Linked DNA regions of Homo sapiens: region 1 is linked to region 2. The links come from fine-mapping of genetic effects on gene expression. A gene starts in region 2. The other region holds a variant in brackets. All regions are shown on one strand. Distances are from middle to middle. Region 1 overlaps GULP1 (GULP PTB domain containing engulfment adaptor 1). Region 2 holds the start of GULP1 (GULP PTB domain containing engulfment adaptor 1).

What was found. PIP is the estimated chance that this variant, and not a neighbour inherited with it, causes the effect.
Region 1: its variant is the best candidate, but not a certain one, in a credible set for the expression of GULP1 in cartilage (Steinberg 2020, PIP 0.78).

What each region holds. Positions count from the first base shown.
Region 1 is chr2:188,326,589-188,330,987 of GRCh38, forward strand. The region is part of intron 1 of GULP1 (GULP PTB domain containing engulfment adaptor 1); the gene reads left to right. Among named protein-coding and RNA genes, the nearest start is that of MIR561, 31 kb to the left of the region's middle. The variant C/CT (reference allele first, on the strand shown) is at 2,556.
Region 2 is chr2:188,290,080-188,294,478 of GRCh38, forward strand. GULP1 (GULP PTB domain containing engulfment adaptor 1) reads left to right here and starts at 1,795. Exons shown (of 12, transcript NM_016315.4): 1 at 1,795-2,087. RefSeq lists an enhancer at 3,647-4,399.

The DNA.
Region 1 (4,399 bases), 37 kb after region 2:
TGTCTGATCTGAATCTAAAATCTATGTTGACTATATTTGATACCTTTTGAATTTAAATTCATTGAACACTTGATATAGTTTTATTTATTCTTCTTATGTAGCAGTGTTCTCAATTATTTCAAAGAAGTCGTGTTAATGACCTTCTGGAATACGTTTCCATTATTGGCTTTAGCTTCCAAAGCAGTCCAGTAATGATTAGGGCTGACATCATGTTTCATACTGATGACACTCTTCCTAGAAGCTCTGCAACAGATGGTGGCCTTTGTGTAGACTCAGCACAGTTCTCCTGGACTATGCTCCTGACTCAGCAGAATTCAGCAGACAGTCTGTACAAGGCATCGGTCTGTGGTGGAGAGACTTATCTGGAAAACTAGCAGGGAAAAAGATGCTAACTAAAATGGGTCGAGGGCTCTAGCTGAACTCTATTCTCTGTGTGGCATTTTGTGTCAGACTTAAAAACCATATGGCCAGAAAGCTCTTTCACTGTAGGGCCAGTTAGCAAATAGCCTGGTGTCAGATTCTAGATAAAGCACAAGTTTACATTTTGCATTGAGAACATTTTTATCTGAGGCCTCTGTGTTTTACAAATGCACATGTGAAGGCAAGATGCCTACTGTACAGAACATGCAATTGATGAATGCCCTAGGGAATAAGATAAGGAGATGAGATTCCTGTACCAACATAGGGCTCTTTGTTTCACAAGTTTTCATCATTTTGGACAGGATTATTTGAATCTGGCAATAGATGGACAAGGCTCTGCTCTGCTTGTGCCTGTAAATTGGGAATTATTTCTTTGTGACATATGGGAACATTTCTTTGGGGGAAAAGAGAAGTGTGTTTACTTTTCTAATGCTCCTTACAAGTTTCCTTGGGACTGGTCAGATGACAAAACTGTCAGTGACAGGACTGAGACTGTAGAGGCTATTTACTATGAAGTTAATGGACCACAGGCTTCAGGGCTCCTTATTTTTTCAGGCTGTGTCCAAGACCCTGCATCTTATTCACATGACCATATGTAACATTTGCAATTAAGATGATTTAAACATAATCAGGTTAAACTGTGCACTTCTACTCCTATTTGTCATATTTCTTTTAGTGTAAAAAATGGTGTTAGAGTGGACATGGACAATTTTGAATTCTGGCTAATGGGATGCTGAGTTAGGGATACATTTATTTTGCACTTAGTAGAATATTTTGGTGTGAGCCATATGAAAGTGGCATTTTTTGAGGTTGAAAATGATGGAGCACTGACAATTTCACATGGCCAACCTAATATTTATGGTGGTTCAAAATTAGTTCAGTGTATAATGAAGTTATTTCTGCTGTTCTGGTAAAGAAATATCTCCCAGGAAACTTCCTACTTCTCCCACTGCTTCCAAATGATCCTACATGCCCAGAGTGATGAGTAAAAGTACATACCAAGAGGTCATTTTGTAATATGTATGTGTCTGAGAGCATCTGGTACCAAAAGCATTTGGAGAGAGAGGAAACACCACCATCACCACCACTTTGATCTAGAATTGGAGAGCAATCATAATAACATATCTGATTACCTTTCACAGGAAAAGGAGTGTAATAGGATGAAAATACATTGTAAGATGGCTATGAGGTTATATTTCTAGGGTTAAGATTAGAGCACATTTCAGAAACCTTATAGCAACTTAATCTCTCTATTTCCATTTCTCTCTATCTTCTCTCAACCTTGTTTATTCCCATCTTCCCTTTCAGGAAAATGAAGACAGTCAGGGATCATCAATAAATGAGATTCGTCTCTTAATGAAACTGGGAGTGGATGGGGAAGACCTTTTCTAGGGATATCTTCTAGCGTTTTTCTACTTCTGTTTCTCTTAATGCCATATTATCCTGGTTGCTATTTTGCCTCGCCAACTGAGGTGGCCTAGGAGGTGCTACTAGAATCAGCAAAAATATATTGCTTGCTAATTAATTATCCTTCAACATAAATTCCTCAGTTTTCACAAGTAAAACAGATGTTTGCTCTTCTGCCCTATGGTTTTATCTTTTCCTTTAGTTGCATCAGCTTTGGGGAGTCTGAGAAGCTGTAACAGAATAAGTAATGTTTTTCTGATTACTGCATACAATGAGTTCTAAATGTCACAAATAATTTACAAAATCAAGGAATTGCAGATTCACCTAATGTCTGTTTCTTAAAGAGCTTTTCTTTAATAAACTCTTGCCAGGGGGATGGAGTGTCCTATGAGAGGCCTTACTTGGTTTATTCATGATGAATATGAGTATACACGATGAATACTTAAACATTTAATACTATCTTGCCTTTTGGAATATAACACATAAACATACCTTCTTTTCCACTTTTTAGAAGTCAGAAGCATCTATGATACGGATCAAACATCATGAATCAACTCATAAATCACTTGCAATGCAAAAGGGTCTCGGGACACTCACTGCATTTATTCTCTGTATTTATTCTCACTGTATTTATTCTCTCAGCTTCTTTTTCACAGGTGGTCTCAGGCTGTCTGCTTCCCTCCTTCAATCATCAGTATTTTTCTCAAGGCAGCCCTCTCTATTGGACT[C/CT]TTTTTTTTTTTGAGTTTCTGTTATCTTCTCTTCCTCTTCTTCCTTCAGGCTGGAGGAGGCAATAGCACTATTATTACCATGCCAATGGTTCTATATTTTACGTTCTGGTTTTATTACATCCCTCTTGTACCCTTGTAAACAGTTCTTTATTCAACTGCACTGTTTGTCTGAATTTAATGCAGCACCCAATTCCTGGGATCCTGACTGATAAGGATGCTAGTCTAGGAATAGGTAGTCTAGGAATAGGTTTGACATTATCAGTGACATGTGAAGTAGGTGAAGAAAAAAGCCATGGAGGTGTGTGGGGGAAAGAACCATCTGCATAGAAAAACAGTAGCTTTATTCTTGGAATGTTGGATTGACAATGAAGTGGACTGGGTGGCTGAAATGAAGTGGGAGAGAAGTAGGAAATTAAGTCAGAGAGGTAGTAGAATGAGGTGGGAAGATCACAGAGTGCCTTTATAGGGCATATACTCAGAATGAGATTAGAAATTAGCGGAGGTGATGATAAGCTTATAATGTGTCACTTTTGCTACTATTTGGAGAATAATCTCTATGGGGACAAAGATGGAAGCAGGGAGGCCAGTTAGGAGTCTGTTGAGAAAGGCAATGGTGATTGTAGAAGCAAAGATAGTGAGAAGCGATGGGGTTCGTGATGTATTTTGGCAAGATGGGGACAGGATTTGCTGATGGATATAGGATATTAAGAGAGGAATCTAGAATTATGCCAAGTTTAGCAACTGGGTGGATGGATCTGTCTTTTCTGATAGGAGAATAGTCATTGGAGGAAGAGTTTAGGGAGAAAGATCAGGAATTTGATTTTGTACCTGTTAACTTTGAGATGCGCCAAAGTAGTTGTATTTAGGCAGTTCATGGGAAATGTGTAGGCTAGAGATACAAATTGAGGAGTCGTCATCATATAGGTAGTATTTAAAGTTATGAAACATACTCAAATTACCTAGGCTGTTGATTCTCAAATTATTTAGTTGGATATTTGTAAATATAGTTTTCACTGTAAATATATGGTGGTTAGGTCATTTCAGTCAGCATTTAAAATAATTCTTAAGATTAGGTAAGTATTTTATAAAAATAAACTTATCTATTTTATAATTAGCAAGTATACTACCTAAGTACCTATAAATAGGTATATCCATAAAATACTGACATGTCTATGTAAACTCAGGTAGACATATAAAGTATGTATAACACAAGAACTATGTTTGAAAATATTATTTGTCTTTTTGGTGGGCACTTTTAAATGTCAGAAAGTGAGAGTAATCACTGATTTTCCTGCCAAACAGAATTAAATTACAACTCTGAGAGGAGAACATAAGGAGTGTTATTGCAGCTATCCTTGAAATGTCAGACTGCTTTTAAAATGTGATTATTTTAAGCCCTTTGTTTACACTGTGGCATCTTTATATGTAAAAAAATTTAAACACTTGGGCATTCTGTGATTTATGTCTAACTTTTAGTATTTTGAATAAAAGGCAATTTGCAATAGTAAAGAAATCTTTATTACCAAAAACAGTAGACTAGGAGTCAGAAGTGTGGATTTCTAGAATATTTTGTCACCAACAAGCCATGTAAATTTATAATACTGAACTTCTCTGGGCTTCGTATTCTTTGTTTGAAAATGAAAAGGTTCATCTGGATTACTGGTGTTTCCACAGTTCCATAGATGTCTCTCTCTCAGCTCCCCCGACAATGGGTCAGGTATGCCAAAGATGCCTGGGTCCTTCACTCTGTTTCAACCAGAGCCTTGAGCTTTTACTTGTTCTTTGTTAGTGCTACTAAGAAGATGTTTTGAACCACAAGATCACCAGTTAAATGGTCTTAATCT
Region 2 (4,399 bases):
GCCAACTGTAGTGGTATGTTGATGTATTCTTGGGAATCGAGAGTTATTATAATCTTTTAATATTATGGCTAAAAAACCCAAAATATCTATGTGTAAATATATAATGTAAGCATGGATTCGTTCATCTCATCAACCTCCTTATTCCTAAATACTGGACTACCATTTGTTTTATTTTTATAATCACATTGATACCAAGTGATCATCTAAATGACATTATTTAATTTTTAATGATTGTTCATAAATTAATTGCTTAAGAGTTATTTACAGAAAAAAACTAGCATTTGTCCTGAGATTAATATTTTTAATATAATTATTTTTATGTGTGCTTGACTATTGTGATAAAGAGAAAAACAGTTAAAAGAGGACCCCAGCCAAGTTATTATGAGGACTGATTTCTGATATTAGCTTTAGTACCTCCAAACCATGAGATTTGGGGAAAGTCACTTAAGAGCCCTAGACTTCAGTTACCTTGTATTTAAAATAAGGGAGTTCAGCTGGAACTAGTTAATCTGTAAACATAGTTTCCATTTCAAAAATTGTGAAATGATGCCTTTTTAAATGGAAAAAGCATTAAGGAGAAGAAAACTGATTCAGTTACAGGGTCTTTGGGGGAAAATTTCTAGCACCACCCTCTCTCCTAATTACAGTAAAACATGGTGGGATATAAGAACCAAATATTTATTGAGTATTTTCTCTGCGCCTATCACAACTCTATTTTAACTCCTGTAAATGTGACTGTGACTCCGTGAGCTAGATTATAGAATTCCTGTTGACAGTTATAATTGGTAGGCACAGAAAGCGTAAAGATGGAGTTTGGAATGGAATCTGGCCTGTCTGACTCTAAGCCCTGGATCCACTGTAATACATTATAACTGCTAGCTTTGCAAAATGCCTTTTTCCTTTTCTCATCTATTTTCACACTCAAACTAAAATTTAGTAAACTAAATTCTGAGCAGCAGAAAAAATTTTAGTAAAGGTCCTCTCATCCTTGAAGAACTTCTTATATAAGGATACTCCTTCTTGCTCCCTTTCCCACGCAGAACTTTACCAAAGGTCAGTAAGAATGGGCTGTTGTGTTTTCTCTCAAATCCTATACAGAAGTCCTTAATTCCGAGGTAAACATCTGAATGGAACAAATGAGTATGATCTGGGGGTTAAGGCAATTTTCAAGTGTGTGTATGTGTGTGTCTGTTTTAAGGCATAACAAAGTCCAGAGATTAAGGCCGAGTTAAAAAACAAATGAGGACAAACCAATGAGGACAAACCAGTCCGCTGAGGTGCGGCCAGAGCAGCAGCAACTGTGGCTGCTTTCTTGATAAAGGCTGTGAAGACGGCACGTTTTACTCTTATTCGTGTATTTCTTTTGACACTTTACCCCTCTATGAAGCCTCAGAGGTGTTTTAAAATTGTGTTAGGAAACACACAGAGATAAGAAAAGGCAAATGGTCCTGATCTAGTGTCTCAGGGAAGAGGCTGGAAAGGAAACGCGGCGCGAGTGGGGTGGGAGAGGGGGCCTGTGGTTTTGCTTCTGTCCGGGCTGAAGACTGAGTAAGGTAGGGCCCCTCCTTCTGCGGATGGGTTTCTCTCTCATTCCACCCTCCACCCACCTCCGGTTCCGCGTGCACGCGCGAGATAGTCCAGTGGGCCCACAGATAACGACCATCAGAGATTAAAGAAGGAAAGTCAGCGAGCTTGAACACAGGCGTCCCGTGTGGAAATGTCCAAGGAGACCGCCAGAAGTGCGCAAGCCGGAGTCGGCTAGAGTTTCCTTCTCACCGAGAGGGGGAGCCCGGCGTTCCCGGCCGGGAGCGACCCGGAGTCCCCAGCCCCGCGTCCCAGCTGCCGCCAGCGCCAGTTTTGGATTCGGCGGATTAGGAAGAGGAGGGAGGGGGGAGAGAGCGCGAAGAGGGAGGGGACCGAAGCTGGAGGGTCCCGAGTCCAGCGCCGTGTTGGCGTAGAGAAACTTTCCCTCTCGGCCTCGGAGACGGCGCCCCGGCCGTGCCGGAGTGGAGATCGCCAGGCTCGGAGGAACCGGCAGCTCTCCACGCCCCTGCCCGAAGCCTGACCCGACTGCCTCTCTCAGTGAGGTACGGAGATTTATCTAGGCTCTTCCCTGGCTGCGAACCCAGGCTCCCTCCAGGTAGCGTGGAATCGCTTAGAAGCTGATATCCCGAGGGGCGGTGGGGGTGGACAGCTCCGGCCACCAGTGCCCGGGAAGGAGGGCGCGGGGCTGCGCGTAGCCGCTGGCCAGCAGGTTGTAAAAAATTAGGACAGCTAAATGCTCAGGGAGTCGTCCAGCACTAAAGGAGGCTAAGACCTGTTGACGCCTGCTATGGCAGCGCTTGAGAAATGACTGGGGGAGTCCAGCGAGGTCGGGGACGCAGCGGTCTCCGGGCTCCAGAAACCTCCTTAGCCTTTTGTGGTAACTTTGGTCCGGCGGCGGGGGGCCGGTGAGCAGGAACTGGAGGGAGGCGGTGGGGAAACCGTGGATCCGTCCGGCTGAGGGTGCGTGGATCAGACTGGGCTGAGCAGGCAAGTCATCGTCGGGTCACAGCGAGGCGACCCAGGAGCGAACTTCCAGGGCAGCCTCCCTTTTGTTGGCGCTGGGAGAGAATGTGGGCATGGGGGTGGGGAGGCGCGAAGCTCCGAGGCCGGGCCGCGGATACTTTAAAGCTCAGAGCTGGGAGGGCCCAAAGGAAGGGGCGGCGTCCACATGGTTACCCTTCTGCTGCGCGGGTCAAGTAGCTTCTTCTGGAGGGCGCAAGGCGCGGCGGGGGTGATGAGCCCTTGGGTTCTCGCTCCGACTGCTAAATTCGCTTGGCCGGGTCCACCTTCTCGTGGCCTCACTCGCCACACGGATCAGAATCCGGAGCAGGCAGTTCTCTCTATTCTGAGGCTCCTGCGGCTGCCGCGCTGACTTCCCTGTGTGCGGGAGGGAACTCTGGGCAGGCTGGTTTTCTTGGAATGTGTTTACGATGTTGAATGGGACTTGAACAGGAAGCTGGACGCTGCAGCTGGAACTAGCGTGCCAAGGTAGAGTAAGGAAGACTTAGCTGGTGTTGGGCTTGGCGGGTCCACTTGGTACGCTGGGCAAACTCCAAGTAAGTGAGGGCTGGCAGTCAAGGTACCCCTCCCTAGGTCCTAGTAGTGTTTCCCAACTGAGCTCGCCTTACTCATTTGCAATCAGACATTTTACATGCACTATTTCAATCTGCAAGTTTGACAAAGTGTAATGCAGTCAATTAGGAAGGATTTAATAAATTTATTTTGTGCCTGCTTTTAAAATACGTTACACCAACATTTGAGAATAAAAAGTTACGGAGAATGTTCAAGTCATGACTGATTTCTAGGACTAGCAGGAGACAATACTGATGATTTTGTGTCTGTATTACAAAATGGGTGATTAGGTGCTAAAGTAAGGGAGATTATTAGACAGAGTGAATGTGAGGAAGTGGAAAACTTTCAGAGGAATTGGAAATTCTTCAAATTTGCAAATTGCTCCCTTTCTCTGCCAGTCTTTCCCTTTTCCCCCCATATGAACAAGTAGCCTTGGCTGGAAAACCCACAAATTGGGAGAGTGCAGTCGCTGGTGACTACAGGCTTTGCTGGAAACAGCAGACAGGCTAAGGTACTGCCCCACTGCATAATTAAAGGTCTCCTTGAGCTGTCCAGGAGTGTTTTCCAAGTTTTTACGACTGACAAGGAAAAAAAGAGAGGAACCTGGCCGGCAGCCAAACTAGACTGAGCTCAGTAGCCAGGCATGAAAGAGACTGGGCAAGTTGCAGGGGCTAATTGGAAAGGGGCTGTCGGTTGCACTTGGGGTTTAAACAAGAGGTTTCTTTTGCAATGAGAATTTTTAGGTGGCTAAGATCAGTCTTCTTGGCAAAAAAATAAACTAAGCATAGAGTGCAGTTGGATATGACCGAGGAAATTACAAAAAGGGCTCCAGGAGCAAAGTCTGAACTTTCCTTATCAGTGTTGCAGTGGAATAGCTGGGGGCCTGATGCTGTTTGTGCTGATCATACTTTGCAAATGCCCACACTTTGTTGCTGTTTGTCTCCTTGGACGAGGTTTGCTGCAACTTCAATTCCTTGACTTCGGCCTTACTTTGTTTTCATAGCAGCAAGAATTGAAGACTTAAGGGTTTGAGCAGATGGTTTTCTACCTAAATTGAATAATTCAATTACGTATTCTCAGCTAGCATGGATTTGGGTCATGGAATTAAAGTAGAAACGTATCCGGCATGACTTCTTTGTGCTTATCAAAAGTGATCCTGATAAACAGATCTTGCTCTTTCATGTAAAGAAGTAAAAGGTGAGATGATCTCAGTATTTCACACATTTGCCCTTTACTGCTTCCTAATTCCAAACCAGCTAGGAACTCAAAGCCTTAACTGCAA